Linked DNA regions of Homo sapiens. The main gene of each other region encodes a partner of the protein of the gene in region 2 in a complex. Each region holds a gene or a part of one and is shown on either strand. Other genes may lie near its edges. The genes, in order: BMP10 and ACVRL1. A codon is read from its position in the direction of its gene.

Region 1 (15,703 bases), on a different chromosome or scaffold from region 2:
TTGCATCCTGCAATCCAATCAAGTTGACAGTAAGTATTAACCATCACACCAAGCTTTTGCTGGAGCCTCTTGATGACAATTTTGATTGAGTCAGAAGGATGAATTTCGCAGAGATGTTGGTTATATTAACAACTCATTGCACAGATGGAGGACCTGAGGTCCACATCCAGCTACAAATTTCTGCCTGCCTCCTGCCTCCAGGCTGATCTGGGGACGTGTTGGCCTCTCAGCATTATTGCCCATGCCCTAGTCTGGTAGAAGAGTGGTTTAAAAGTGTGACTGTTTTATTCTTCATAAGAATCAGGCTGCCTTGGTTGAAATTGTGGCCCCATCACTTTGCAACTTTGTGGCCTCTGGCAAGCTATGGCACTTCACTGACCCATATATGTGATGGAGATAATGATACGGTTATTACAGGAGCACACTTGATGATAGGTGTAAAGCACTCAGTACAATGCCTGTTTGTAGGAAGCATCTAATAAATTCTAGTTGCCAGTATAACTAAGCACTTGCCCTATTTTTCAAATGCTATTTTAGCCAGATCAAATAGGTAGGAAAAAGCCTGTCAATCATGAAGTTTATACTTTCCTGTTTCTAAAAAGGTACACTTCTAAAAATTTATATAATTCATTTATAGCTATTAACTTAAACTTGGAAAGTTTGGATATTTGGTCTGTCTTCACAAGTGTTTATCTGAGCCCTACCTCTCAAATTAACATGTATCACCATTGATGTGCATTATGTTGATTCTTATACCTATTATATGCATGTGTGAAACTAAGCCCCATAAAAACAGAATTTAGGCATTCCTGCTGAAAGGAAGTGAATTGAAGGGAAGAGAAGCAGAGCCTTTGCAAAGAGAAAATTGTCCTATCTCTCAACCAGTGTCAGAATGTGGAAATGTTTACAAAATGCTCATTAAAAGAAATAGGGATTGCAAGATAGAAACAAATTCTGGTGCACAAGTTTACACTAGGGAGATAAGAAAGGCTAGGCCCCTATAGGGGATTTTGTTATCCAATTACTGCAACCTGACTTTTAGGGGGAGAGGAAGAGTGGTAGGGGGAGGGAGAGAGAGAGGAAGAGTTTCCAAACTTGTCTCCAGTGACAGGAGACATTTACGTTCCACAAGATAAAACTGCCACTTAGAGCCCAGGGAAGCTAAACCTTCCTGGCTTGGCCTAGGAGCTCGAGCGGAGTCATGGGCTCTCTGGTCCTGACACTGTGCGCTCTTTTCTGCCTGGCAGCTTACTTGGTTTCTGGCAGCCCCATCATGAACCTAGAGCAGTCTCCTCTGGAAGAAGATATGTCCCTCTTTGGTGATGTTTTCTCAGAGCAAGACGGTGTCGACTTTAACACACTGCTCCAGAGCATGAAGGATGAGTTTCTTAAGACACTAAACCTCTCTGACATCCCCACGCAGGATTCAGCCAAGGTGGACCCACCAGAGTACATGTTGGAACTCTACAACAAATTTGCAACAGATCGGACCTCCATGCCCTCTGCCAACATCATTAGGAGTTTCAAGAATGAAGGTAAGTTTTTGCTGATGAAATTTTGCTAGGATTTTTTTCAAGACACAATAAGTAAATTTACAATGCATGGGAATGATATAGGTAAGGGTAAATACATCTATATAAGGATGTTAAATACATATGGATACACAAAAACAAGGCACATTTTGTTCTATACCAATTATATAGTCATTTCAGGAACCTCGAAAAATACTTACAAACATCTTTTAATCCAAAGCCACAAAACATCTATCAATTTGACATCATAATTGGGTCCTTTTAAAAAATGTTAATTTGAACACCAAGTAATACAAAGAATTAATGTTGGTCTACTGCCGTACCTTTGTCATTTTCCAAATAGGCCTTGATTGCCATATGGGCTTTTAATTAACTAAAAAATTTCTCAACTTCTACTTAGAATAAAAAGGGTAAAAACAGTCAAAAAACATCAAATTGTGATTTGTGTTTTGTTCAAACTTTTGATAAGTTTTTATTTTGTGACCTTATTTAAGAAATGTTCAAACAGGATGGAAATATATTTTAAAGATTCTTCCTAAGGCTGTGTTGTTTGATGTGTCATGTACATCCTTAAAGCACTGTTTACAGTTTCCAGGAAGTGTAGATGGCCCATTAATCATCCAGCTCATCATTTCCGTCTTTATAAAGAGCAACGTACAAGCTTTGAATTATTGGTGGGAAAAGTGTGTTTTCTTCTCTTAGGTCTTTAAATTTGGTAACTAAATCTAATGAGCTAGCAAGTTAATGTTTTTGTTTGTTTGTTTGTTTGTTTGTTTTTTGGTTAATATGGTCCTAGTAGGAAAAAAAACCCCTGATATCTAGATATCTATAGTAGAAGCTGAAGGTCCAAAGGAACTAATTTAATTTTTGCCAGTTATGCTTTTATAGTCACTAACCAGGTATAAAAGAAGCTTCCCGTTAATATTGGCCAGATGTTCTTGAAAGAAGAAAGGTAATAGTGAAGAAATAGCTCAGGATTTGGGATTTTGAGAGCTAGTTGGCTTAGTGGTTGTGAATAATTAGCTGATGCCTCAGAGCCTCAATTTCCTCATCTATAAAGTGGGAGTAATAATACCTACATAACATAGTTGAGTGACTCAAAGGAGGTTACAGATAAGAAAGCACTCCATTTACTATGAAGTGCTGATCAAACTTTAGTGACTACTAATGAGTTACTTAATATTCTAGGTACTGGAATAAATGTTGAGTAGGTATTCCTTAGTCCCTAAGATATTATCTCCCTTTAAAATTGAGTTGGCTGCCAAAATTTATAATTCATAATATCTTTCTCATGGAAATGGCAAGTTGAGATTACAGATTGCTTTTGGAGGTGAGTCTGAATTGAAAATGAACAACTTCCTCCTGTAAGAACCCTCCCTAATACTTCTCAGCACTGAGCCCTAAGTGTCTGGCTCAGGGTGTGGGTGAGAAAATGTTGTTTGCATCCCCTGGAAAACTAGAAACGTTTTCCGTTCTCACTTCTCTCATAGAGTATCTGGATGATCCAGGTCAGGATGTGGAGTTTACTGTGCTTATTATTACTGGAGATTATTGAGGGCAGGAACACATCTCTTAGTAAACAACCCAGCCGCCAGCACCTCTGCCAGTCTGCAGGAAATGTGCAGCCTGAGGACAGAAATCGCACAGGACATGCCCTGTTGGCTACTATTGCCTCTCTTCTGACTCTTTGGATCTGCTTAGTGCAGCTCCCTAGGAGAGAAAGACCAAAAAAACTCCAAACCTACCCCATCTTGGGAAAAAAAAGTGCCACCTCCAAGGTGAAAAAAGCGTGCTCCTTTATCACCTTGTCATTTGGGGAAATCAGTTATCTGCATCAAGGCTTGATTTATTCTGGTGCAAAACGAGTAGAGAATCAATACCTGCATTATGGGGTCATTGTGAGAACCAGAGAAGATCATGCTTGCAAAGCACCTGGCATGAGAAATTTGTCAACAAACATTCGTTCTCTTGCCCTGAAATGTAACTCTTCCATCTATTGCTTACTGCATTTGCACATGCACAGAACTTCACAGTGAACTTACTTTTTCAAAACAGCTTTATTGAGGTATATTTGACTTATAAAAATATGACATATAAAAATATTGATGTATAAAAGTATAATCGCACATATTTAAAGTGTATAATTTGAAAGGTGTTGACATATGTAACATTCATTGAAACCATCACCACAATCAAGATCATGAATATATCCATTAAAACCAAAAGCTTCCTTGTATACTTTGTAATGCCTTCCTCCCACTACAGTGAGCTCTTATTTTATACTTTTCTCCTGGGTAGAGCAACCAGCCTACTCTTCCATGTTCCCTGTCCATGGGGAGTCAAGTCTCTTCCCTTCTTAGAGTGGAAGAATAACTCCCAAGCCCAACCCAAGAGCTTGATGATGGATTAAGGTCATATGTCACGCCCATAAATCAATTTAGTCTGGTGCCTAGAATCATCAACTAATCAATATTTTTAAAGCACTACCTCTGTTTAAGCCATCATAGTAGGATAGAGACATAGAAGGGAGTTTTGAGCCATTCAAACCAGGAGGATGGCAATCTAGTTGGGAAAATCCATTCATAAAAAGATGGCTGAAATATAAGGACGTAAATGACAAGGATCAAAGGAGATATAAAGTGATCAAATGATTTCAGAGGGGAGAGGAGGGAACTTTCAGATGAGAAGTAAGGGAGGCTTTTATAGGAGATGTCAGAGCTGGATAGGTGGAGGTGAGGTGAAAGGGCTTTCCAAGGGTCAGAAGAACATGTGAAAAGGTGAAAATTGCAGGGAAAAAAAGAGTGTTTTGACAGGTGGTAAAGATATCAATGTAGTTAAAACAGAAGGGTTTACAAATCCATTCAATTGTTCACAAATATTATTGAGTAATCACAATGTTCCATGCACTGTGGAGGACGTATGTAAGCTATGGCTGATCAGGAGGTTAAGACCCAGATATAGCTGGTCTTGAGAGCCATGCCAGGGAGTTTAAATTTATTCTGTAGGTCAGCATTTCCCACTAGCAGTGTGTAAGATTAATTTAGGTGGTACCCAAAGAAAGCTATTAATCATGTGAAATTATTGTATATTTTTCTTAGTATGGATTTTTAGCAAACACACATAAATATCACCTCAAATCTCTCCTTTAATGAATTATGTTGCTTAGGAACAGTCTAAAATAGATAATAAGTATAAAATAATTAGATCAAATTAAAGAAAAATATTAAAAGATTATAATCTGAAACAGGGACTCACCGAGATCATGAACTAAGTATAAACTTGGGGAAATGCTGCCAATGATGACAGAGAACCCCCAGTTGGTGGTCCTTAGCATCTTCGGTGCCATGGAGTCCTTTGATAATCTGATGGCAAATGCCTTCAGGGCTTCCTTGTAGACTCATTACCTGAGGCAAGTGTGCAGGAGCTTTGGGCTCACTGTGAAATATTCAGATAGGAAGTCAACATGATCGTATTTGGAAGTATGCTTCTAAGACTAAAGGACTTTTACAGAGTTGATTCATAAACATTATTGAGTGAGTTATACATGTCACGCCCCATGCCAGGTGCTAGGGGTACAAGACTAAGGCAACCAATCTAGTCCCAGGATTCATTTTCTCCCATTCCTCTTTATAGAGAACCATATAACCAGCAGTCAATTGCTGAGACCCTCTTGGTTTATGGCTGTCTTATTGGCCTTGTCAGGCTTTGTTGCCTAGAACAGAAGTCAGCAAGTTTCTACTGTAAAGGGCCAGACAGATAATAACTATTTTAAGCTTTGCAGGCTATATGTTCTTTGTTGTATCTATTTAACTCTGCCATTATAGTGCAAAAGTAGCCACAGACAATACAAAAACAATGGATGAGGCTGTGTTCCAATAAAACTTTATTTCCAAAAGCAGGTAGCAGGCCCATATTGGCCCATAGGCTATAGTTTACCAACCTCTGATCTAAATGGAGGTCTTTTAGGAAGACCAGTGTCCAGCCAACTGTGCGGGGATCTCCACCCACTACAAACACAAATATTAAAAAACCATGAAGTCCTCATCCCCGAAAAGCTTCAAGAAAGGAACAATCACCACATGTCCCATTTGGTGGCGTTTTGTTTGTTAGGAAATTTGGGGACTTGCCCACACAATCTCCAAGGTCCCTCCCAGTTCTGTAATTCTGTGGCTGATGAGCTATTCAAGCAAGGTTGGCTGAGTTTTATGCCATCCATTAGACCCCCATTTTCCATTTTAGTCTTGGCAGCTGAACTCTTTTGGGCATTCTACCACTGACCTTTTGGGATTTCCTGTGTCACAGAATGCTGACATTGTGTTTGTTCTCATTGATTTTCTCCCTTCATTCTTTCTGCATTAAGCTTTGTGCATGGGAAGGCCTTCTTATTACATAAATAAGCATCTGTTTTTCCCTGAGACCCACTGCAAACCTGATTTTTGCAAATTTCTTTTTTCAGATCTGTTTTCCCAGCCGGTCAGTTTTAATGGGCTCCGAAAATACCCCCTCCTCTTCAATGTGTCCATTCCTCACCATGAAGAGGTCATCATGGCTGAACTTAGGCTATACACACTGGTGCAAAGGGATCGTATGATATACGATGGAGTAGACCGGAAAATTACCATTTTTGAAGTGCTGGAGAGCAAAGGGGATAATGAGGGAGAAAGAAACATGCTGGTCTTGGTGTCTGGGGAGATATATGGAACCAACAGTGAGTGGGAGACTTTTGATGTCACAGATGCCATCAGACGTTGGCAAAAGTCAGGCTCATCCACCCACCAGCTGGAGGTCCACATTGAGAGCAAACACGATGAAGCTGAGGATGCCAGCAGTGGACGGCTAGAAATAGATACCAGTGCCCAGAATAAGCATAACCCTTTGCTCATCGTGTTTTCTGATGACCAAAGCAGTGACAAGGAGAGGAAGGAGGAACTGAATGAAATGATTTCCCATGAGCAACTTCCAGAGCTGGACAACTTGGGCCTGGATAGCTTTTCCAGTGGACCTGGGGAAGAGGCTTTGTTGCAGATGAGATCAAACATCATCTATGACTCCACTGCCCGAATCAGAAGGAACGCCAAAGGAAACTACTGTAAGAGGACCCCGCTCTACATCGACTTCAAGGAGATTGGGTGGGACTCCTGGATCATCGCTCCGCCTGGATACGAAGCCTATGAATGCCGTGGTGTTTGTAACTACCCCCTGGCAGAGCATCTCACACCCACAAAGCATGCAATTATCCAGGCCTTGGTCCACCTCAAGAATTCCCAGAAAGCTTCCAAAGCCTGCTGTGTGCCCACAAAGCTAGAGCCCATCTCCATCCTCTATTTAGACAAAGGCGTCGTCACCTACAAGTTTAAATACGAAGGCATGGCCGTCTCCGAATGTGGCTGTAGATAGAAGAAGAGTCCTATGGCTTATTTAATAACTGTAAATGTGTATATTTGGTGTTCCTATTTAATGAGATTATTTAATAAGGGTGTACAGTAATAGAGGCTTGCTGCCTTCAGGAAATGGACAGGTCAGTTTGTTGTAGGAAATGCATATTTTCCTCTCCAGTTAAGTCCCTTTCAATCTGTTTTCTCTTTGGACTTGCCATTTCCTGGCAATGCCACCTCCCTGTTGATTTGAAAACAACCCCTAGGCAAAATACAGTGTCAAAAGACACACACTTGTGTATGTATATTTGTACATACATGAACTTACAAAAATCTTTTGGTTCTATGCAGGCAGGTTATACTCATCTACATGCATGACTCACTCAAATGTATGCATATTAAAGGCCAATGGTATGTTCTCTGTTACCTCTTCTCTGAGTAGGATTTAAGTCAAGATAATTGACATCAGGGTTTTAATCATCCTAGGAAGTATTACCCTTCCTAAATACTCTGGAAATGTAAGTGTAGCTTTTGTCAGTTGAGTTTCTGTAGTTGCTCAGAGAGGAGGGGCCTGGCAAAGGATGCTTGAAGGGAAGGGTTAATTGATACAGAAACCAAATGGACTTAAGAGGTCTTAGAGGTACAACAGGAAAAAATGAACCCATGGAGGACCAATGTGCTCCAGAGGGCAACTCCTGGTCAAGGCAGGAAAACAGAAGAAACCAGCATGAAATCTGTTCCTGAGACAATAGGAAAGCAAGGCCATGAGTACTGGCCATTGCTGCTGCAGAGAGTAGAGGGGTTGGGAGGGTACTTGAAGGGGAGAAAGGGAGAAAGGGAAGAGGATATTGATGTTATCCTCAGAGGCTATCCTCAGATGTGTCTGTAAAACCAAAAGTGGTTCTGTTTAAAGAATTAAATCTTTTGGACAAAATAGAAGTATCAAAGACTAAGAGGAGGAAAATCAGAAGGGGTCTGTCTGTTGGAAGAAAGGATGTTAATATCTTTCTTCACCTGTTAACACTGTTCCCTTGTCTCAGCACCCCTGCTTTCCTCTGCTCCATCTTCTTCCTTCCCTCTTTCTTCTTGGCCCTAGTGCCTCTCACCTTCCTCCCATCCCTGTGTCCCTGCTCTTCCCTGGCCTTCATGATGCATGCTGTGAACTGGAAAGGGACACCTAAGTGCCTTTGCTCTCAGGGTGAAAGGAGTTAGTGTTCTAATTTCTAAATCTTCCCGTGATATTTAATTTGATTTTATTTTAATAATATCCTTTATCAAATGTTTTGTTCATGAAGAATACTTAGATATAAGAGAAAAGAAAACCAGAATAAGTAAGTATAAGAAAAAGAAAACCAGAGTCCAAATGAATGGATTTAAATAAACGAATTTATGAATAGACACACAAGCAAATGACTCAAAAGCCAAGCCTGAATTTTGAAATCATGATTGTTTCATGGTAGAAACCCAGTAACTTTCCCATCTTCTCATCTTACCATCTTCCCATTTTGCAACTGGCCAGGACTGAAAGTGGTGAGGAAGTGTTCTGCACAGGAAGGGTCCGGTGGGTTTTCCTGGCAGGTGGCAGCCTCCAGTCTTAACCCCTAACCATTTCCCTCTACCTGGCAAGCATATTCTGGGCTTTGTGCAGGAGGAACCAGAGCAGAGCAGAGCAGTTTCCAAACTGTTCCAGCATCTCCAGGCAGGGAACATGGATGGTTCCTGTTAGAACCAGGAATGTGGTTTCCAGTACGTCATCCCCCATTCACCCCTACTCATCTTAAGGAATGCTTCCTTAAGAAGTCTGACACTTTTTTCTTTTTTTTACCCTGGAAAACAATCAGTCCCCTTTTACAAATCTCTTAAGGTTATAAACTCAAACTGCACTAGACAATAGAGGCAAGGAAAACTATTTTGAAGAAGGCCCAATTTGAACCTCAGCTCGCTAGATCTGTTGTCTGCTGGGTGAATCCTGGGGAATTCATTGCTCATGGAAGAGTGGTGTTTTGACCGTCAGTGGGTATACAGTGATTGATGCTTTGAGAAAGCCATGCAACTCAGAATCACTATTTGTGGAACAGCCTCCATATAACATGATGTGTGTATGTGTGTGTGATGTATAGCTGGCTTTGAATAACCACGCTTAATACCCTCAGTGGAACGTGGTGCATCCTTCATACTCCATGGTACACAATGTATACTCACATACTCCAAGGTACTTCTTATCCTTTCTAAAGGACACTGTAATACATACACAGTAAAACCTCAGCTGACCAGGATAGTCCTGGTTAGATAAAAATTAAGCAAATTTTCTTTATGTCTAATACATATGACAGTGGTGTGCTGGTAAAACCCTTACAACCAGCAATCCAGGGGGAGAAAAAGCCCTGATTTGTGGATTTCAATGCTGCAAACGCTCCTACATGGTCTATCTTGAGCTGCCAAGGTGATGTCAACTGGCTTGCAAAACTTCTAAAACCTAAGTCAGCTCTTGGGAGCTGTGCACTGGTGCTGGCACACCGCTGACATTTAGTATCCCACTGACATTAGCACACCGCTGACATTAGCACCCTGATACTAGAATGTTAAGGATGTGCCAGCCCTGCTTTCCACTGTGTGCGCTGCTGGCTCCGGGCTTCTGGAGAAATCTTGTCTCGAGCACTTATAGTCACTCTTCTGTTAAAGAGATATGAAAATATAGGCTGTTGGCGATCAGGCTGCATAGCCCAGTTGTTTCTTTCTGCCCATCCAGATGTAAACCTGCATTTCTATGATTTTCTGCTTCCCTGTGGAAAGGGAGTGCAGAGAGCAACATATTGTTATTCAAATGTTGCTAGTTGTATTTTTTTGGCTTTTTGTCAGAAAGTGAAAAGACACAGCCCGTAGAGGAGTTCTCCCAGCTCCCACCGGAACCCCGGCAGCACACCGGTGTCACTTTCAACTCCTGCATTGACAGGAAGCCAGAATATTGTCAGATCCTTAAAAAGGTAGAATCTTACTAATGTTTCTCTGGTCATAGACCTTCTTCTGGGTCCCATGCCAGTTTTTTTCCCCCTTTTATTGCAGAATTATCATCACCGAAGTTGATATAGCTAAACAACTCTTGAGGAGAATTATAGCAGAGGGACTTGGGCAGCCCACAGCCAAAATATTCATGTAAGAGTTTCTAGGCTTCCCACTATTTATTGATTGATATATTTATTTTTGTAAAATATTGTAGAATACCAAATATTTTATTTTTATGTCTGTGATTCCCTTTTGGATAGAGAGTCTTCTGGGCTTCAGAGTATGGCTCACATATAATATATGGCCTGTATTTCCATCTCTCTCTTTTTGCATCAGAATATTCTATTGGTTTAAGGAATCTTGCCATAGCTTGCCATAATTTTGTATATTTGTGTCTTGCAGGCATGCTGTGCCTACAAGCATGCTTTGTAGTATATTTTCTGATTTGTAAATAGTACAGTTTTAACTGAAGTGTAGATGTTCCAGGAAATATTTAACCAATACATTGTCATGCAGTTTCATAAAGTGATGTTGTCAGTTTATCATGAGAAGCAAATATTGTCAGGCTGTGAGAGAATGTGATTGCTACTCAGTAAACGGAGATGCTATTTAAATGAATCTTTTCATCCCCCAAATCTGGTACTTCCCCTCTGAATTCACCTGTTGCCGTCACTGACCCAGAAATTCAGAGATGTGATTGGTCAAATTCATTTGTAATTGGACCAATTACTTTGTAAATGTCAAAAATGTTAGCTTAGTGATTTCCAAAAGAGTCAGCCCCAAAGTGCCGAATTCTTTCCTGATGTGTAAATTTTGGTCCGGGGAATTAATGACAAAAACCTTTTTTTTTTAAGAACTGTTACTAAATGTTTCAGTATTTGTTATGATTTATATTCTTCAAGTAAAAGATATTTTCATATAAGAGAATTTTATGTATTCTTCTTACTTGATTCATCAACAGATTATGAAGCCTAGCAGTGTTCTGGCAAAACCTTTTTAACTTGCCTAGAACACAGAAGGGATGTTGCCCTTTTTAAGGTTGTAGATCTTTTCAGAGTCACTGTGGGTCATTCTCAACCCTTTGCAGTTCTGCAAGCTCACATATGGTGCAAGAGGAAATGCTGGTATGACTCTGTGCATTTTCTTGCCCCCAAACAGGAACAGTTGATTTCCTACATTAAATGGAAGGTAGATGTGACTATGGAAGAGAAGTACACAGGGGTGTTTCTGCATGTGAAATATTTGTCATAAGTTAAAAACCCATCATGGAATAACTGTTTGTTGTGATCAGCATGTTTTTATCACACATGGGCACTGGTTTTGTGAGCACCTGGCTTGATAGTGGTGGGGCGGCCAATGTGCCAGCGCCCGCCTACTGAGCATTCATGGACATTGGAAATCAGCGAACACCACAGACACACCGAATCAGCTGATGCACGGTCATGTTCTGGGGTAAAACCTGTTCATTATCCATGTCCACATTTGTATAGTTATCACTAGACTAAAATGAAGATGGAAATAAATATTTTACCCTGTGTTCATGAACCAAATGTGTACCTTCAGAGTCTTTTTAAGTAAAATAAAAAAATTATTTTGGTGATAATTATTTGCAGCTTATTTTTCCTTGAGGTAAGGTATTTAATTTTGCACACTCCCCACTTTTTCATGTTTCTACTTGATAACATATCCCGATGGAATAAAACTAATTGCTATATTAATAAAGAATGGTCTGAAGAAACCATAAGTTGTTTTTGGCTTGTAACTGACCTCAGTAGGGAGTGGGATTTTGTAGCTCCATGGTTCTCCCACTTTATATGACTTTGTGTAATTCCCATTAATGCCACAGGCATTCACAGAAAATACAATTGGCTCCCTTTTGTCAGTAGCTGGGAAATATTTCTTCTTTGAATACCAAAGGAGGCAGTTTAGAGGTAACAGTCCTGGCCAACAGACAGACCTTGCTGCTTTTTCACGAAGGAAATTCATTCTTATGGCAGAATGTGGAATTTGAAGGGCATAGGGACAGCCCCAGGTAGAATAAAATCTCTTCCATCAGAAAATCATCCTGCATCACTTTTTTTGAGGGGACGCCTCCAGTGTCTCAGCTGGCAGGCTGAATCTGGCAAGTGTGTCGGAGGGAAGCACAGCCTTCATCCCTGGATGAGCACTGATAAGGTAAGACAGGGCTCTCCCATGGAGGAAAGGGAGCTGAGAGCCCAAGATGGGGCTGAGCCCAGGACTGGACTAAACAGACCTGAAAAGCCACTCGTGTAATTTGATTTTGAATTCTTTAGCAACCTATTCATTCTCTTCTTTAAATAAGTCCGTTTATAAAAGTCTGTCACAATGTGGGGTCTGGAACCCATCTCTGCAATTGGTTTGACCTGATCACAGCTATGCTGGACCAGCCGCCTTGTTCTGTGATTTCTTTCCTACTGATACAGCCTGGAATTGCACTAGGCAGACACACAGCTGCAAGTTATTTGGGGGGTAGTTTGTTTACAAAGTAAGATAAAAAATTATTTTCAAAGCTCACATTATACATTTATAATATGTTACAGGTTCTAATAGTATTCCTGATGTGAACTGAACTTTGTGGTATGGGGAAATCATGCCATGAGATCTCTGCATGTGACTCCAGTCACATGAATGAGAACCCACTTTTGTATAGAAGTGACTATTTGTAAATAAGGGGCCTATTTGGAGAAGGTGAGAGCTTGTTAACTTGGGTGGTTTAAATGGATTATGTGATTATCTCCAACTCACTCTCCTGAACTGTCAGTTTACAAGAAACAGCTCCTGCCCTCTCTTAACCTTCCTCAGACCATTCACACAGATCTAAAGTAGCTCATCTCATTCCAAGAAGAAAGCCCAGAAATGCATAGACAACGCAATACGTTTTTACTCTTAAATGTGATTCTGTGAATCTTATAAAAAATTTAGGCCACTCAGTTCAAATTAAGATTGATGGGAGGTGTGAAGTACCATTGTCAACTCAAGATTTGCTAGAAAGTTTTCACACACAGAACACTGAGCCCACTTCCTTGCACAGCATGGGAATGGTTTTAGAAAATTTAGTTCTAACTCCTTATTAGTATCTCACCTAAAATGCGTACCATAACCTTACTAATTATGAGGAAACATCAGATGAACCTATTTTAAGAAGATTCTGCACTCTTAAAAAGTCAATGAAAGGCAAAGAAAGATTGAGAAACCGTTATAGATTTAAAAAGACTAAAGAAGCATGACAACTAAGTGCAGTATGTGGTCCTGAATTGGATCCTAGACCCCTCAAAAACTGGCCAAAAGCACATTATCTTTTTGTTAAGTCCACTGCTGCCACAGCTGGTAGAGAGTCCAACTTCATCCATTGTATGCTCTCAAATGACATTCATTTGTAAAAATCTTCTGCATGGTTATTGCTCTTTTTCTGAAACTGTGAGAAGCTATACAGGAGTAACTAGGCTTTTGCTCAATGCAATGTCCAAGAAGCAGGCAGACAGCATTAAAAATGAAACCTTTCTTTGCTCAGTAGCCAAACTCAATGCAAGGAACAGAGCTGAAGGGAAATTGTTCATCACATGGCAAACCTGATGTTAATAAATGAGCTGCAATAAAACATTTTCCTGAAATAACCAAACTCAACATGCTTTTCAGGCAATAAGCCATCTGTTTCAAGTGTTTAGAAAACGGATCTCCAATCACTGGTAATTTAAACTTCCTTATACCCCAGTTCAATGTTTGATAAGGAAAGAGTGCTAACAGGATGGAAACTGAGTTACTATATTAAGAAACCCAGCAAGAACAAAAACCAGCCCCCTGCAGCTATTTTGTTTATGCTCCAGACCCATCTGTTTTAATTAACGTAATATTTACATGAGACCAGCTCCTGTTACGTCTTTTGCTGCAAATATCGCATGTTTTATTCTTTGTTGTTGTTGTTGTTCTTGCTTTTAAAAGAGATCCTGCAAAAGCACAGTTGCAGACTATGCCTGAGCGAGGTGTACACCGGGGAATTACACCTGCATTCTAGCTCCCCAGGTCCAGGCTCACCTGCTTTGTGCAGTTTGGGGTCAGATATCAGGTTGCCAGATGAAATACAGGATGTCCAATTAAATATGAATCTAAGATCAAACCATGAGTAGTTTGTTTAGTATAAGTCTGTCTCAAATGTTGTACAGAACATACTTATACTAAATAATGTTGGTTGACTACCTGAAATTCAAATTTGGTTGGATGTTTTTATCTGCTAAATCTGGCAGCTTAAGTCAGGTATTGCTCAGAAGGTTACATGAGTGGAAAGATCCAGAGAAAGATGAAGTCGTTTGCCTTTCCATGCCTAGAAGGGCTATTCAGAAGATGACTAATCACAAAGCATTAATTTGTTTACACTAAACAAATTATTCTAGTAAGGTTCATCATTGAAGAATAGCTTTGAGATTTGAAGTGGAAATCCCCTTGACCATGTCTGCCAATGCTAAAAACAGTAGTAACACCCCAAAATCATCATCCCCAGTTTATACGTGAAGAAATTGAGTCACAGTGAAGAAGGCATACTCTTAGAGGTCATTCAACCAGGCAGAAGCAGAAGTAGGATTGCGAACCCAAGCAGCTCACTTCCAGCAATCAAGCCCTTCCCTGCTCTGCCATGCTGCCTTCTACTTAAAACCACAAAAGTAGTGAACTTTCACATCCATTTTCCTACAAAATCTGTCAACAAACTGGAAACCCCCAAGCTTTAGCCAGGCGACACTGAGTGGGCCTCATACCTCAGGATCCAGGCTGCCTACCATACTTCCATCCCTCCCCTGGGGCTTTTTCCTGTCTCTTGCTTTCCTTCCCTCTTTGGAGCTGTTCTTCACTACTACATCTTTAAGAGTTTTCTCCCTGCAATACAGGTGCTTCCTCTTCCTGCCCTTTCTCAATGTATGGGTCCCATAGGTTAAGAGCTCACTGAGAATTCTGCAGAGATAGACACGGAGTGATGACAAGGACAGAGCAGAGTCATATGCACAGGTTGGATAACCCTATAGAGACCCTGGGGCACTCATTTGGTCTCTGAGTCCTCTCGGCTCCTCATCAGAATTGCCCAGACATTTCTCTCAAGGCTGGGAGCCTAGAAGGTGTTGGGTGTGAGACCAAGATGCTCAGCCCACAGCTCAAGGAGGAATCAGGCTGACACTGCTGGCTAATCTCATGCCCCAAACATTCTGCCAGGGTCCTGGCCAGCTATGTCTTTTCAGGATTTTCCCCTCCCTCTCTTATGAAATCTGTCTGTCAACTAACTGGAAACTCCCAACCCTTAGTGAGGAGACATCACATGGACCTGAGAGGTTTTTCTTTCCTCCTCGACCCCCACTGGGGAAGAGGCATGTTTCCCCAGAACTTCAGAAGATTCTCAACTGAACTGACTGACATTTTCACTACCTTTCCTGGGAGTCTTTCCAACACCGAGTCCTGAAAACCCTACCCTCAAAGATTCTCTTTTTTTATGTTGACTTCACCTATTTTAGATTTTGCTATATTCATTAAAAGTGAAATTCCTGGAGAAAAGGCTATGCACATTTAAAATATATAATTCTGAGAGATACTACCAAAAATGACTCTCCAAAACTTTACATCAAATTATAATCCATCAGCTGTGTATAAGAGTACTATTTCTACAGTTTCCAATATTCAATACTATTGCTTTTCTCAATGGACCCTGTTATGGATTGAATTGTGTTCTCCCAGAAAGATATGTTGAATCCCTAACCCCACATACCGTAGAATGTGACATTATTTGGAAATAGG
Region 2 (15,703 bases):
AAATGAAAAAAATCAAAAATCTCAACAAAGAAATAGAATGTCCCAGCAAAATAATAATAAAAATTTAGGAGATACAAAGAACCAAATGGACATTTTAGAACTGGAAATTGCAGTAACTGAAATAAAAACTCATTGGATGAGCGCAATAACAGGGTGGAAGGACAGAGAAAATAATCCTTGAACTGGACAAAAACTGGTTGTTTTGTTTTGAGATGCAGTTTTGCTCTTGTCGCCCAGGCTGGAGTGCAATGGCGTGATCTCGGCTCACCGCGGCCTCTGCCTCTTGGATTGGGGTGATTCTCCTGCCTCAGCCTCCCTAGTAGCTGGGCTTGCCGGTGCCCGCCACCACGCCCGGCTATTTTTTGTGTTTTTGGTAGAGATGGGGTTTCACCCTGTTGGCCTGGCTGGTCTCAGGCTCCTGACCTTAGGTGATCTGCCCACCTCAGCCTCCCAAAGTGCTGGGATTACAGGCATGAGCCACCGCGCCCGGCTTCTATAAGTTTTTTTCTATGTTTAAAACTTTTAATTTCATTTTTGTACTTAATTTTTTTTTTTTATTAAACACACACATTAGCCTAGGCTTACACAGGGTCAGGATCATCATTATCACTGTCTTCCACCTCCACATCCTGTCCCACTGGTAGGTCTTCAGGGGCAGTAATGTGTGGAACTGCTGTCTCCTGTAATAACAATGCCTTCTGGAATACTTCCTGAAGGACTTGCTTGAGGCTGCTTTAAAGTTAACTTTTTTAAAAAATAGAAGATGCACACTCTAAAATATAATAATAAAAAGTATAGGATATTAAATACATAAACCAGTAGCATTGTCATTTATCATCAAGTATTGTTTATTGAACATAGCTGTACATGCTGTATACGTTTCTATGGCTAGCAGCGCAGTGGGTTTGTTTATACCAGCATCAGCACAAACACATGAGTAATGCGATGCGTTACTACGACGTCAGTAGGCAACAGGAATTTTTTGGCTCCATTTATAATCTTATGCGACCATCATTGTATGTGTGGAATATTTTTGACTGAAACTTCATTATGCAGCAAATTACTATATTAGCAAATAAAATTGAGCTATATATAATGAAGAAGTACACATTATAACCAAGTGGGTTTATTCCAGGGATGTAAGGCCTGGTTCACTATTAGAAAATCAGTCAACATAGGCTGGGCACGGTGGCTCACGCCTCTAATCCCAGCACTTTGGGAGGCCGAGGCGGGTGGATCACCTGAGGTCGGGAGTTCAAGACCAGACTGACCAACATGGAGAAACCCCTTCTCTACTAAAAATACAAAATTAGCCAGGTGTGGTGACAGGCACCTGTAATCCTAGCTACTAGGGAGGCTGAGGCAGGAGAATCGCTTGAACCCAGGAGGCAGATATTGCAGTGAGCCGAGATCACGCCATTGTACTCCAGCCTGGGCAACAAGAGCAAAACTCTGTTTCAAAAAAAAAAAAAAAGAAAAAGAAAGAAGAGAAAATCAGTCAACATAATCTACCGTATTAACAGACTAACAAAGAGAAATTACACAATTCGTATCAGTGGATGCAGAAAAGGCATTTGACAAAATTCAATAGCCATCCATGATAAGAATACACACACACACACAAAAGAGGAATGGGGGAACTTTCTCAATCTGATATAGAGTGGCTACTACAAGAAACTTACGGCTAACATTATGATTAATAGATTGAGTGTGTTCTCCTAAGAGAAACAAGGCAAGGATGGCTGTTCTGTTTTGACCACTCTTATTCAACATAATGCTAGAAGTTTTAGCTAGTGCAGTCAGGTAAGAAAAGGAAATAAAAGATATGCATATTGGAAGGTAAGAAATAATACTGTCTCTATTTGCAGATGCAGATGACTGTCGATGTAGAAAATCCCAAAGAATCCATGAGGGGTAGAAAACCCAAATACCTCACCCCCTTGAATAAGTGAGTTCAGCAAGGTCACAGTATACAAGATCAATATGTAAAAATCGATTATATTTCTATATAATTTAATGAACAAATGGACACAAAAATTAAAAATAGCATATCCTGTTTATAATTGCTTTTAAAAAGTATAAGTGTAACAAAACACATAAAGGAGTTAAATGCTGAAAACTACAAGAACACTGATAAATAAAAGAGACCTAAATAAATGGAAAAAAAATATATCATTAAGAATTTTAAGATGGCAATGACAGCGCATTAAACCAAGCATGGGGCCCTGTGCATCTGCACAGGTCACACTCCCATGAAGCCAGCCCCGCACTAGTATCAAGAGTGATGTTTGAGTCTGGGTGGGGTGGCTTATGCCTGTAATCTCAGCACTTTGGGAGGCTGAGTGGGTGGATCAGCTGAGGTCAGGAGTTCGAGACCAGCCTGTACAACATGGTGAAACCCCGTCTCTACTAAAAATACAAACATTAGCCAGGCGTGGAGGCACGCATCTGTAATCCCAGCTACTTGGGAGACTGAGACAGGAGAATCACTTGAACCTGGGAGGCAGACCTGAGATCACGCAACTGCACTCCAGCCTGGGCGACACTGTGAGACTCCATCTCAAAAAAAAAAGAATGATGCTTGAACTTAATACTCATAGCTGGTCCTGAAAGGTGAAGGTGTCCATTGCCCTGCCTTCCTGACAGACTCCATGTCACCCACCTTCCACAGATGAGAATCTGCTTGAGGTTTCACCCCACACAGAATCTCCAGGCCTCTGCTTCCTGCAGTGTTGGGAAATCCTTCTGAGTATCTAAATCTAAATCTTTGTCCTTTGGGCCTGTTTCCTCTTGTTCTGTCCTCACTGAATATGGGGAACAGCTGGTCCCTCTGAGTAATTAATTCTTGTAGACTTGGACACAGTCTGTAATTCCTTTTCCCTTTTCTCATTGGGATGACTCTCCAGGGCTTTCTCCAACTCTGGATCTCCAACTCTGACACCTCCCCCAGGTTCTCTGTGTGCTTTGGAAGGCATGGGGTTCACAAGAGCCCCAAAGAGCACCAGTCAGGGGCCAGAGGGCTCAGTGCTCTGGGGAGATGGGGAAGATTCCAGCACTGATGAACAGACTCCAGCCCCCCCTGGGTCCTCTCTTCCAGCTCCCAAAATGTACTCTATTTTTATCTGTTTCACGAACGCTGGTCCAGATAGTCTTCCATCCCCCACTGACTGTTAGAAGTGACTCTCAGCTTTTGTCCATCTCGAAGTTTCTGTGCTCAGTGTGCCTCTCAGACTAAAGGCTTCCTTTGGGAAGCCCCGACTCTCGCTTCTCAGGACAGAGATCCAGGGGTTGGGGGAGGAAAAGGTTGACCAGAAGCCATAGCGGAGCAGGGAGAGAGAGTGTGAAAGACAGACCCGCGGCCAGGCTCCCAGTTCTCCAGCTCGTAGAGGGCCCAAGTGGCCGCTATAATCTGAAAGAGCAGATATCGTAATCCCATAGTACTTCCTATTGGCTGCAGGACACAGTTCTGTCCTGACACTGAAATTTGGGTGTGTCAGGGTTCTGGGAATTCACAACGCTCACAACTTGTGAAGCAGCTGTGGGGTGGGGGATGGGGAGGGTTTCAGCAGAGGAAGTGAGGTCAGTCAATAATTGATGCCTGTCTGAGCTTTTAGCCATTATCTCCCCCAGCCTCTATTCCTGTCAAAAGGTGGGGCGGGGCAGGAGGAGGGGTCCCTGGCTCATCTTGTAGAATCCCCATATTAGAGTAAGACACCTTAGAGGTCTACTCCTGCTTCTAATACCCACGTCTTTCCAAGTGTCTCTGAGGCCACCCCCTCCCCAGCCTTTTCATTTATTCATTTAATTAACGAACGCCTTCATTGAGGGCCTCCTCTGAGTCAGGCTCAGCCAGCCAGCATCTTTGCTATGAGCTGAGATAAGCATCATTTCCGTCTATTCTCACAACCACCCTATGAGGCTGGCACGGTTTACTATGCCTATTTAGCAGATGGGGGACTGAAGCATGGAGAGGTGTCACTAGCCTACGGTAACACAACCAGCCTGCATTCCTAGTAGGTAGTTTGACTTCAGAGTCTCTGTGGATAACCAGGAGGCTAGGACTAAGACCAGAGTCCTGCAGGTACTTAGATGGTTGGAGCAAAGCAGGGCAGTGAGGTCAGTGCTCCCAGCCTGTGCAGGAGCATCAGGAAGAGTCTGTGTCCCCCTCCCCTGCCGGTATGAAGCCATTCTGCTTCCCTCCCCAGCTGCCTTGTGTCAGCAGAGTTCCAGGGAGGCTCCATTCCCCACCTCTATCTAAAGCTCCATTTGCTGGGGTGGGGGCCCTGCCTGGAAGGGGAAGGTCCAAGGCTGCTCCCAGCGTGTCCCTCCATCCTGACTGTCCCTGGCGGGGCGGGGGTGTCTTTGTCACCCAGCTGCACAACGGCCAGGAAGGGCTCAAACCATCCTCAGGGCTAACCCAAGGCCGTCCTCTGGGCCTGTATACCCCTGTGCTGAGTGCGGATCGGGAGAGGCTGCTGAAGACAGGAGGGGACAAATGGGGGACGAAGGGGCCCGAGGGAGGGGACTGAAGGATTTGGGCCAAGTCGGGAGTTCCCGAGGGCGGAGTCAAAACGCATCTGGATTTTGCTAGCCCCAAACTCTGCCCTCATTGCTGCAAGCCTCCTAGACCGAGGACCCCCGGGCTGAGGGTGGGGTAAGGATAGGTAGTGTCCCTCCCCGTCCCACCCCCGCCTGTCCCTTCCTCGGTGGCCCCTTCCCGGCGCCCCGATTCCAGGCGGCCCCTCCGCTGCTGCCAGCCGATCCCCCTCTACCCCCACCCACTACTCCGGCCGCCAGACGTTGCCTACAGTCTCGGCTCTGTCTCCCACGGCTGTGGGTCCGGACCCCACGGGACCCCTATGGGACCCCCACAGGACCCCCACGGCCTGAGTCCAAGGCCCGCCCCCTCGGGGAGGCGGATGTGGGAGGCCCGGCCCGGGTGCGGGCCAGCGACCCGGGAGCTGCGGGCGGCTGGGAGGGGAGGCCGCCCTGAGGGGCTGGGAGCGGCGCGGGGGTGGGTCCCGGTCCTGCAGCCCCAGCGAGGGGCGAGCGGCGGCCAGTCGGCGAGCTGGGCAATAAGGAAACGGTTTATTAGGAGGGAGTGGTGGAGCTGGGCCAGGCAGGAAGACGCTGGAATAAGAAACATTTTTGCTCCAGCCCCCATCCCAGTCCCGGGAGGCTGCCGCGCCAGCTGCGCCGAGCGAGCCCCTCCCCGGCTCCAGCCCGGTCCGGGGCCGCGCCCGGACCCCAGCCCGCCGTCCAGCGCTGGCGGTGCAACTGCGGCCGCGCGGTGGAGGGGAGGTGGCCCCGGTCCGCCGAAGGCTAGCGCCCCGCCACCCGCAGAGCGGGCCCAGAGGTGAGTCGAGGTCCGCGGACGGGACCGGGTGGCGGGCGGCCTGACCCCCGCTTCAGTGGGCCCTTCCTTCGGGCGGACCCCAGAGTCACCGCAGAGTGGTCGCGGGAGGCTCAGTCCCAGCTCATTAGAAAGGCAAGCTGCTCCTGGCTGACCACGCACAGCTCCCATGACCCTACCTGAGACTTGGAGGGGAATGGACGAGACTGGACTGGAAATCAGAAACTTGGTTCTAGTCGGGTGACCTGGGGTCAGTGACTTCACTTCTCTGTTCTCCTACCCTCTTCATAAAATGGGCAGTGGGATTCCTGTCTTGCTCTACTCACATAGAAGGGATCACACGTCCTCCAGGCCGCTGGGTGGACCTGGAGTGAATGCCTACTTCCACAGCTGTTGAGCCTCCCAGCAGAGCTCACCTTTCCCAGATCAGTCCTTCCAGCTGTTGCTTGAGGAATCTGACACTATCACTCCAACCTAGGAGTCTCACCCTAGGCGCGCATGGTCAGTCACCTCCTTGCCACGACCTTCCTTCAGGATCCAGGCCAAAGGGGATCCCAGTCTCCCCCCAGGCTGGGACCCCAGATTTTTCCATGGAGGCCAGTGCTGTGAAACCCATGGCTGGGCTGGCTGCCCCAGCTCCTCTTTCCTTCTCCAAGGACAGGGGCATAATGGACAGTTGCTCTCACTCTCTCTATGTATGGCCAGCTTCTGGCTGAGTCAGGGTCTGTCCTAATACCTGTCCTCTCACCTGTCCCCCCATTTCATTGGTTTGTTAGAAATAGCTACCATTGATTGAGTACTAACTATGTAGACACTTAGATATATATATTTTTTCTCATGTAATCCTGGCCGCAACCTAGTGGAAGAGGGGTTACTATCCCCTTCCTACAGAAAAGGAAACAGACATGAATATGGGACTTGTCCAAAACTCCTTGGATGGTGGGGTGAATGGCATGGTTGGGGTCTTGATAACATTTCAGTGCTTACTGTGTACTACTTATACTCTGCTAAATAATTGTACTACATTTTACCTATGAGATAACACTATTATTATTCCCACTTTACATATGATGGGAAGCCTAAGCCTCAGAAAGTTTAAGTAACGTCTCAAATTTCATACCTCTAAGTGGCAAAGGCAGGATTTGAACCCAGGTCTCCATGCTCCAGAGCCCACACCCTAACCTCTGTGCTACACTGTGCTGCCTCCATGGTCTGCCTGAGACCTGAAAATCCAGGCATCACCTGGATGTTCCACTGCATCACCCCGCTGTGAAGGGCTAATAAATCACATGGATGAATCGTAAGGGCAACCCAATATGAACAGCTGGGTCTGCTCCTCTGCTGTTGGGGTAAGGCCTACTGAAGTGCAGAGTGAGTCCAGAAGGTTGTGCTTGATATGGCGCTTCTCCAGCCCTGTGAAGATCACTGCTGTGCTGAGCCACTGCCGTTGATGGGAGTAGGTTTTATCAATCCTTCAGGTGTGCTAGGGAGAAAAACATTGATAAGCACCTTTCGGGCATACCACTACTCTGGCTCTCCCCACCTGAGGCTCAGACTTTGACTAAGCCTATGGCAAACAGATGATTTCTGGGCAGCAACACCACCTTTGTTGCCTGGGTCAACATAGTGAGACCCTATCTCTACTAAAAATAAAACTGGGCATGGTGCTGCACCCCTGTAGTCCCTTGGGACTTGGGAGGCTGAGGTGGGAGGATCACTTGAGCCCAGGAGTTCAAGGCTACAGTGAGCTATGATTGCACCACTGCACTCCAGCCTGGGCGACTGAGCAAGACCCTGTCTCAAAAAAAATTAAAAACAAACAAAAACGCTGTCTTCATTTAAACAAATCTGAGTAGGGCACCCGTTAATAACAACAGTAGTGGGCAATTTGTACACGTCCACCGAGACCCATGTCTTTTTCTTCCTTTGAGGGACTCATCTAACCCCAAACAACTGGAGGAATAACAATGACCAAGGAATGATTTATTATCAGCAATTTAAGTTTATTAAGACACGCTCAGTGACTATGGACAAGAAACTGAACATCTCTGAGCCTCACTTTCCCCCGTTGGACTGTTGTGATGATTAAATCAGATAAACCATTCAAGTTCAGTACTTAGCACATAATTAGTACTCAGAGAAGGTTAACTGTTATTATTAAGTATTTCATAGTGTTTAGCTAACGTTTGAAATTAGTTTAACGTCTGTAATTTCTGGCCAACAATAGTGATGCTTCTGTCAGCAGGAGATCTTTCACAAAGTTTTGCTTAGAAGTGAAAGGATCCTGCCAGGCCCCAGGAGTCTGTCTGTGCTACAGTCAGATTTCAGGGTAAATCGTACAGAGTCAGCTCTGAGTTTGGACTGGTCGGGACTCAGCATCCTCCTGTACTTGATCTCACACTGGGTCCAGTTAAAAATTGGACAGTCCCAATTTTACTCCATCACATTCCCAGGATTAGACCATAGATGGGTTCTGCAGATGCAGACAGCCTCGCTCCACAGTGTCACCACGTCCCAGCTTTGGTGTTTACCCTTGGCTGTCCCTTCTGTAGTAGATGGGGAGTATCCTGGGTGGGAGTGAGTGTCCCCTCCCTCTGCATCCCACTCCCACTCACCCAGCAGGGCCCTGTACAGCAAAATGAAAGCAGAGGAACCAGACTTAGCGTTGTGCCCACACAAACTGATCAGAACTCCCTGGGGAACTTTTAAAAAATGCATGTTTCTTGCTGATTCCAGGACTGAATCAGAGTCTGGAGTGAGGGTGAAACCAGTGAATATGCTTTTCTCAGTGAGCACTTCAGGTGATTCTGATGCGTGATAAAGTAGAAGGAGGGTGGACTGGGGCACGGCCAGAGAAGTAGAGGTACGGACAGAGGATCCTAGAGGAATGCCGGATTTTAGCCTTATTGTTAGCCACTTTTTCCTTTCCACCTCAAACCCTCTCCTTTGCAGCTTTCTGGGCTAGCAAAGGCTGCCAAGGATGGCTTCCTGCTAGTACCCCAGTGGGCAGATTCAGCTCCTCTAGGGTGCTCTCTCCATCCCATCCCACCGTCAGTCCTGCCGCACAGTGCTAGCCAGAGTCCTCACTGGCTGCGGGAGGGGCAAGAGGCAGGAGGTCAGGCAGAGGCTGGGGACACAGCTGCAGCAGCCCAGGGCTCTGTTTCCTCCCCCAGCCTGGGCCTCTGGGGCAGAGGAAGCCCAGGCAGGAAGGCCAGGCCTGCCACCAGCCAGAGAGGCCTATGAAGCCCCCCTACCCCACCCCTAGCCATACTGCCCTCAGAGCCTCAGCATCTTGGGTCTTCATTTGGCACCATTCTTAGACTATGGGCTTTCTGAAGCCTCTGTGGCCATGTGCCCAGCCCTGTCAGGCTCACCATGTCATGCCAAAGGACAGTCTCCCTGCCTTGTGCCCTGCCTGAGGATCCAGTCCCCAGACACACACCTGCACATGCTCCACCATTCAGAAAGTCCTGTTGCTGTCTGACCAGGGTCCTTCTTGCTGCAGCTTTAGCCAATATCTTCTGGTTCTAAACCTGTGAGAAATGAAGACTGGGTGGCTTCAGAAGCACTAGTTGGTGTGGGACCTGGATTGGGGACTATCATAGACCAGAATTACTCCCCCTAACACTCTCCAACAAACTTCTGGAAAAGTTCAACCCTAGTCAGCCATGGAAGGTCAAACATTCAGTGTCTAAGTGTGTTTCACTTCCCCTGCCACATCACTGGCCCTCCACCCACCCTTTCCTAGATGGCAAGGGGAAAGAAGGGGGCCAGGGAACAGCTCCGAGAGGGCAGCTTATACTCTGGTGAGCTTGCAGAGAGGTTTCTCTACACCTGGCATGACCCTGCCCCGTCCGAGCTTTGCATGGTTGTTATAGCCCTGAGGGCTCAGACATGGGCTGCCACCACTGGATAGGGACAGAGCGAAGAGAGCACTTGATTAGGAGTCTGGAAACCTGGGATGTACGCCTGCTGGTGCCAGTGAGTCCTGTCTGACCCGGGACAAGTCTTCTTCCCTGTATGAGCCTTACTCCTCTCTTCTGTAAAACAAGGAGCTGGATTTTGTGATTCACAGGATGTCCACCTAGAATTCTGTCATGTGGGTGTCCCAGGCACAAGGAACTAAGGGTAGCAAGGAACTAAGGGCATATTTAAAAAGCCCCTCCAGACCTTGTGGCTGCTGCAGCCCACCCTGAAAATATGCCCTCAGTTCCCTGCTGTGCGTGACTCCTGCCTGTTCTATCCAGACCCCAATCTAAACAATCTTGATTCCTGTTCCTGGCTTGGCAGGACCCTGAATGGCAGGAAGCGAAGACAGGAGCCTGTTTATGTTTGAGGCAGCCAGGGCTGGGGGGGCATTGAGAAAGGGTAGGCAGGGGTGGAAGCTGTGAGGGAGTGGGAAAGAGACACAGAACAGAAGGGGAGCTGCTGGAGAGATGCTCCTTCTACCCCAATTGGGTGCTCCCTGCGGCTCTCCCAACCTGCCTGCAGTCTGAGCTCAGCAGCAGGAGTGCAGAGCTAGGGTTTCCCCAAGCTCTCAGTCACTTAAACATTGCTCTCCACCCTTCACCTCTAACAGGATGGTTTCCATGGGGAAGTGAACCAGGACTTCCCCTGCAGGCCCCGCCCCAAAGCCAGGCGGCAGGGAGTAGGGAGGCGGCCTCCCTGCCTCCCCTCCAAAAAAAACTCTGTGATTTCCTCTGGGCAGGAGGGAGCCACGGCCAGCGGCTGTCACACTTCATGGCTCTTACTCCACCTCTCTTGCTCCTCTCTGCAGGGACCATGACCTTGGGCTCCCCCAGGAAAGGCCTTCTGATGCTGCTGATGGCCTTGGTGACCCAGGGTGAGTACTGGGGGAGCAGTTAGGAAACAGGAACCTGGATACAGAAAGGGCTATCTGGGCCCAGATCAGCTCTGCCTGGGGCTGAACTTGAGAAGCTGGGGAGAATGTAGGAGCTTGACTGGAGAGTGGAGGACAGTGAGGCTCCATTAGACTCAGTCCCCAGCTACCCCAGCCCTCCTTTGCTCTCCTCTTGATCCAGACCTGCAGGCTGGAGCTCTGTCAGACTAGGGTGGAAGCCTATATGTGGGGTGGAGGGAGAGCAGGTGTTGGCAGGCCAAGCCTGGGAGAGCACTCAGGGCTGGGGCTGGGGGCCCAGCCCAGCCTAGAACTGGGAGGGGAGGACCTAGGAGCCAGGAGGGGACAAAAGCCTGCTTTTCAGAGTGTCAGCTGCTCTGAGGGGAGGGTTCTGAGGGAAGGATGACTGAGGATGAAAGTAAGAGACCAAAGCTTCAAGGTGTTTGTCTGAGGGGTCAGACGAGAGGGACAGTAGGACAGAAATGGGTGTCGGGCTCAGCCTGGGGGAGCTGGGACCACAGTGGCTGAGCTTCCGGTGTGTCTTCCAGGAGACCCTGTGAAGCCGTCTCGGGGCCCGCTGGTGACCTGCACGTGTGAGAGCCCACATTGCAAGGGGCCTACCTGCCGGGGGGCCTGGTGCACAGTAGTGCTGGTGCGGGAGGAGGGGAGGCACCCCCAGGAACATCGGGGCTGCGGGAACTTGCACAGGGAGCTCTGCAGGGGGCGCCCCACCGAGTTCGTCAACCACTACTGCTGCGACAGCCACCTCTGCAACCACAACGTGTCCCTGGTGCTGGAGGGTACGTCCAGCTGCCCTAGCACTCCCTCCCCATCTTCTTGGCCCCTGCCCTCCCTTCCCTCCTTTCCTCTCATGCTCTGGCCAATAAAGGGGCTGGGGGCGGGGGAGCGGGTGGGCAGGACTCTGGGATCTAACTGGCAGAGTGGTCTGGCCCGAGGTGGGGGGAGCTGACCTAGTGGAAGCTGAGCCTCAGTGTCCCCCTCCCTCAGCCACCCAACCTCCTTCGGAGCAGCCGGGAACAGATGGCCAGCTGGCCCTGATCCTGGGCCCCGTGCTGGCCTTGCTGGCCCTGGTGGCCCTGGGTGTCCTGGGCCTGTGGCATGTCCGACGGAGGCAGGAGAAGCAGCGTGGCCTGCACAGCGAGCTGGGAGAGTCCAGTCTCATCCTGAAAGCATCTGAGCAGGGCGACAGCATGTTGGGGGTATGGGCCTGGGGACCTGGGACACAGGGTGTAGGAGGGGCAGATAGGAACTGCAGAATCAGAGGGGTCACCCAGAGATTAGAGCCGGTGGGGAGCTGGGCGAGTGAGGAGCTTGCAGTGACCCAGCAGGTCCCAGGTCGAGGATAGAGAAGGGGGCTGTGGCTGGTTGTGGCAGCCTCTCAGTGGCCTCTCCGTACCCCCAGGACCTCCTGGACAGTGACTGCACCACAGGGAGTGGCTCAGGGCTCCCCTTCCTGGTGCAGAGGACAGTGGCACGGCAGGTTGCCTTGGTGGAGTGTGTGGGTGAGCAGTGGGTGAGCCCGGTGGATGAGGACCAAGGGCTCTCATGAGCCTGGAGGGGTGAGGGAGTTTTTGGCTACTGGAATCACAGGCGGTGCCAGGCCTGGGTCAGAATTGGAATTCTGCTGGGCAGGGAGTGGGCTGGAGACGGGCCAGGGCTAGGTTCTTCTTTCTGCAGGACCGGGGTGGAACGAGAGGCAGCTGGGGGTGGCCTGCCACTGGGTTTGGGTCTGGATTAAGTTAAACCTAAGGGTCTGGGGTTCTGTGGGTGGGGTGGGCGAGGGAGGCAGCGCAGCATCAAGATGGGGGGCTCTTCCAGGGCTCTGTGTGCCCAGTGTGTAACCCTCACCTTCCCCTCTGGCCATCAGGAAAAGGCCGCTATGGCGAAGTGTGGCGGGGCTTGTGGCACGGTGAGAGTGTGGCCGTCAAGATCTTCTCCTCGAGGGATGAACAGTCCTGGTTCCGGGAGACTGAGATCTATAACACAGTGTTGCTCAGACACGACAACATCCTAGGCAAGGGGAGAGGCCAGCTGTGCCAGGCCTGGGGCTTTGCCCCCCTGCACTCAGGGCTCAAGTTTGCAGACCTCCAGACATTAACAGAACCCTGAAGGACTCTCAGCCCACCTGCAGCATCAACCTCTTTTTTTAATTTAATTTAATTTAATTTAATTTAATTTAATTTAATTTAATTTTTGAGACAGGGCCTCGCTCTGTCACCCAGGCTGGGATGCAGTGGTGCAATCTCACTGGAGCCTCAATCTCTTGAGCTCAAGTGATCCTCCCACTTCAGCCTCTTGAGTAGCTGGGACCACAGGCATGTGCCACCATGCCCAGCTAACTTTTTTATTTTTTGTAGAGACGAGGTCTCCCTATGTTTCCCAGACTGGTCTCAAATTCCTAGGCTCAAGCAGTGCTCTTGCCTTGGCCTCCCAAAGTGTTGGGATTACAGGTGCAAGCCACTAAGCCAGGCCCAGACCCAACCTCTGACTCCAGCTCTGTCTCTGACCTAAGCCACATCAACCCCCACCCCCAGACCTAGCTTAGCAGTGACCCAGTCCATTCCCTCTCCCCCAACCCCACCCTGACCCTGACGACTCCAGCCTCCCTTAGCCCCAGCCCCTTGGCTGAGTCACCCAACCTTTCTGCACACAGGCTTCATCGCCTCAGACATGACCTCCCGCAACTCGAGCACGCAGCTGTGGCTCATCACGCACTACCACGAGCACGGCTCCCTCTACGACTTTCTGCAGAGACAGACGCTGGAGCCCCATCTGGCTCTGAGGCTAGCTGTGTCCGCGGCATGCGGCCTGGCGCACCTGCACGTGGAGATCTTCGGTACACAGGGCAAACCAGCCATTGCCCACCGCGACTTCAAGAGCCGCAATGTGCTGGTCAAGAGCAACCTGCAGTGTTGCATCGCCGACCTGGGTGAGCCGGGCGGGGCAGGGGCGCGCCCTTCACAGGTGGGCGGAGCTTGTGCGCTCTCCTCTCCTTTGCCTGTGGGCGGTGACCATGATTAGCACTTGAAAATTTAGAGGTGCATGTTGTTTCAGTTCTCCTCCGCAAGACCCCACGAGTTGTCTGAACACCCTTTTCAAACCCAGATTCCTTCCACCATACCATCCTGGCTCCAGGAGTTGGGAGAAAGGAGGCAGGAGCCAGGAACCTGGGTTCTCATCCTGGTTTCGCCAGCCTCCAGGTCTGCTCTGTGAAGTGGGCTCATAATGCCTGCCTTGCCCACTCACATCTCGCTGGGTTCTTGGGAACCTAGAGAGCACTACACAAGCAAAGAGTACCTGGGGCCATGGTTCTCTCTGTGGCCACTGCCTTCCAGCCCATCTCCGTGCACGTCTCCATCTGCCTTCCCCTCTCTGTCCCACTGTTTCTCTCAGTCCCCACCTTGCCTGCCCCCTGGATCCCAGGTTTGGGAGAGGGGCAGGAGTGACAGGCCTCACCCCCACAGGCCTGGCTGTGATGCACTCACAGGGCAGCGATTACCTGGACATCGGCAACAACCCGAGAGTGGGCACCAAGCGGTACATGGCACCCGAGGTGCTGGACGAGCAGATCCGCACGGACTGCTTTGAGTCCTACAAGTGGACTGACATCTGGGCCTTTGGCCTGGTGCTGTGGGAGATTGCCCGCCGGACCATCGTGAATGGTGAGGGCCCACCCTACACAGGGTAGGGAAAGGGGAATCAGCCTGTGGAGCCAGGGGCTTCCAGCCATGGCCAGTGCCCATGGCCTGGGAGGTTTGCAGTCAGACCTCCTGGCACCCCTTCCATGCTGCCCACCAGCTGGTTCAGCTGAGTGACCTTTTAAGGTATAAACCTTAAAAACAGATAACAGGGTCTGTGAGTCTGGCTGTGAAATCTTGGGTACATGATAATAACAGAAATATTAATAGCAGCTAATATTGATTGAGCTTAAATATGTGCCAGATGCCATGCTATGCACTTTACATGTATTATTTAATTCTTTGGTATGGACAAGGCAGTGGTATTGCTTAGTGGCTAAGAGCATAGGCTTGGAATCAGACTTCCTGGGTTCTATTCCTGATCTTGCCATGACCGTGCGTAGGTTATTTGACCTCTCTGTGCCTCAGCTTCCTCATTTGTAAAATGGGTGCGATGGCTCATGCCTGTAATCCCAGCACTTTGGGAGGCCGAGGCAGGCAGATCACCTGAGGTCAGGAATTCAAGACCAGCCTGGCCAACATGGCGAAACCCTGTCTGTACTAAAAATACAAAAATTAGCTGGCTGTGGTGGCACACACCTGTAATCCCAGCTACTCGGGAGGCTGAGGCAGGAGAATCACTTGAATCTAGGAGGCAGAGGTTGCGGTGAGCCAAGATCATGCCACTGCACTCCAGTCTGGGCGACAGAGTGAGACCCTGTCTCAAAAAAAGAAAATTTATTAAAATAAATAAATAAAATGAGAATAAAAATAGCTTCCAGTTGTTGAGATAATCTAAGTATTTAGAACAGTATCTAGAGCTAAATATTAGTGGCTGTTATTGTTGTAGATAGAATGAGTGCCTGACATCATATTGTCCCCATTTTACAGTTGAGGAGACGGGGGCACAGAATGACAGTGGGCTTGAGGCAGCATCAGGGTCCGAAACCGGGCAGTCTGCCCCGGGGCCAGTGCTCATCATCACTGTGTGCACTTAAACCTCTCTGGCCCTTGATTTCCTCATGCACGCAATGCATGTGAGTGCCTGCACTGCCTGCTTATTGCTGCCTGGTTGTTACTGTGGGTTGCCACAGGGGACTCTGATTTAGAGGGACTGCGACAGGTAGAGAGACCTGCCCTGGGCAGGCAGCCCTGAGGTCGATGTTCTCTCAGCCCTGGAGTGGACGGAGGATAGGTGGGTCGTCTAGACTGGTGGGAGCATTGTCAACCTTTGAGGAGGCTGTCCATGGTGAGGGACTTCCAGGAGTCGTGACAGGTTGGGGACAATCCTCAGGATATGGCTGGAGCCCTGCTTCTTGGGGACAAGGATGTCCTCATTTCCTGAGCATCTACCAGGAGCCAGCCCCATGCCAGACTTCATTTGTCCTCGGTGGTCATCAACTGAAAACAGAGGCTGTGGTGTCACCGGTCCCTTGGGGAGACTCACGAGGTGCTTAGATTCCTCAAGACTCCGGGCATGAATTGCCAGAGTGGGCTCTAAGGAGACCGGGATCGGGGGAAAGAGGAACCTGGAAGAAGCCAAGGCTCCTTGGACCAGGCTGCAGGGCAGAAAGGAAAGGCTGGGAGGAGGCTGCCTGGGGTGGAGGGGGAAGCTCCATCAGCCCCACACGGACTCGCGGCGCATTATAAACACTGTAATCTGGTGTCAGCCCCGGCACTGATTAAAGGCCCATTAGACACATTCAGGCCTCTGTGCAGCACTGATTAGGGCGTGAGCGGCACAGGGGCCGGCCTGGAAGCTGGCCATGGGGAGAACAGCTGGCGAAGGCTCTA

The links.
Region 1: the proteins of ACVRL1 (region 2) and BMP10 are in contact, whole or in part, in a crystal structure (PDB 6SF1), measured with the Homo sapiens proteins. Residues at the interface, in NP_000011.2 of Homo sapiens: His40 (codon at 10,816), Val54 (codon at 10,858), Val56 (codon at 10,864), Arg57 (codon at 10,867), Glu58 (codon at 10,870), Glu59 (codon at 10,873), His66 (codon at 10,894), Gly70 (codon at 10,906), Asn71 (codon at 10,909), Leu72 (codon at 10,912), His73 (codon at 10,915), Glu75 (codon at 10,921), Leu76 (codon at 10,924), Phe84 (codon at 10,948), Val85 (codon at 10,951), His87 (codon at 10,957); in NP_055297.1 of Homo sapiens: Tyr322 (codon at 6,618), Asn357 (codon at 6,723), Tyr358 (codon at 6,726), Pro359 (codon at 6,729), Ala361 (codon at 6,735), Glu362 (codon at 6,738), His363 (codon at 6,741), Pro366 (codon at 6,750), Thr367 (codon at 6,753), Lys368 (codon at 6,756), Ile371 (codon at 6,765), Leu375 (codon at 6,777), Leu378 (codon at 6,786), Lys379 (codon at 6,789), Ser381 (codon at 6,795), Lys386 (codon at 6,810).

What each region holds. Positions count from the first base shown.
Region 1 is NC_000002.12:68,856,857-68,872,559, reverse strand, and holds BMP10 (bone morphogenetic protein 10 preproprotein), read left to right. Parts: upstream 1-1,162; 5' UTR 1,163-1,201; coding exon 1,202-1,535; intron 1,536-5,988; coding exon 5,989-6,929; 3' UTR 6,930-11,651; downstream 11,652-15,703. UniProt on the Homo sapiens protein: Required for maintaining the proliferative activity of embryonic cardiomyocytes by preventing premature activation of the negative cell cycle regulator CDKN1C/p57KIP and maintaining the required expression levels of cardiogenic factors such as MEF2C and NKX2-5.
Region 2 is NC_000012.12:51,902,340-51,918,042, forward strand, and holds the start of ACVRL1 (activin receptor type-1-like isoform 1 precursor), read left to right. Parts: upstream 1-5,164; 5' UTR 5,165-5,356; intron 5,357-10,043; exon of another isoform or gene 10,044-10,130; 5' UTR 10,131-10,135; coding exon 10,136-10,196; intron 10,197-10,759; coding exon 10,760-11,011; intron 11,012-11,219; coding exon 11,220-11,431; intron 11,432-11,634; coding exon 11,635-11,734; intron 11,735-12,099; coding exon 12,100-12,246; intron 12,247-12,885; coding exon 12,886-13,161; intron 13,162-13,696; coding exon 13,697-13,894; intron 13,895-15,203; coding exon of another isoform or gene 15,204-15,359; intron 15,360-15,703. UniProt on the Homo sapiens protein: Type I receptor for TGF-beta family ligands BMP9/GDF2 and BMP10 and important regulator of normal blood vessel development. On ligand binding, forms a receptor complex consisting of two type II and two type I transmembrane serine/threonine kinases.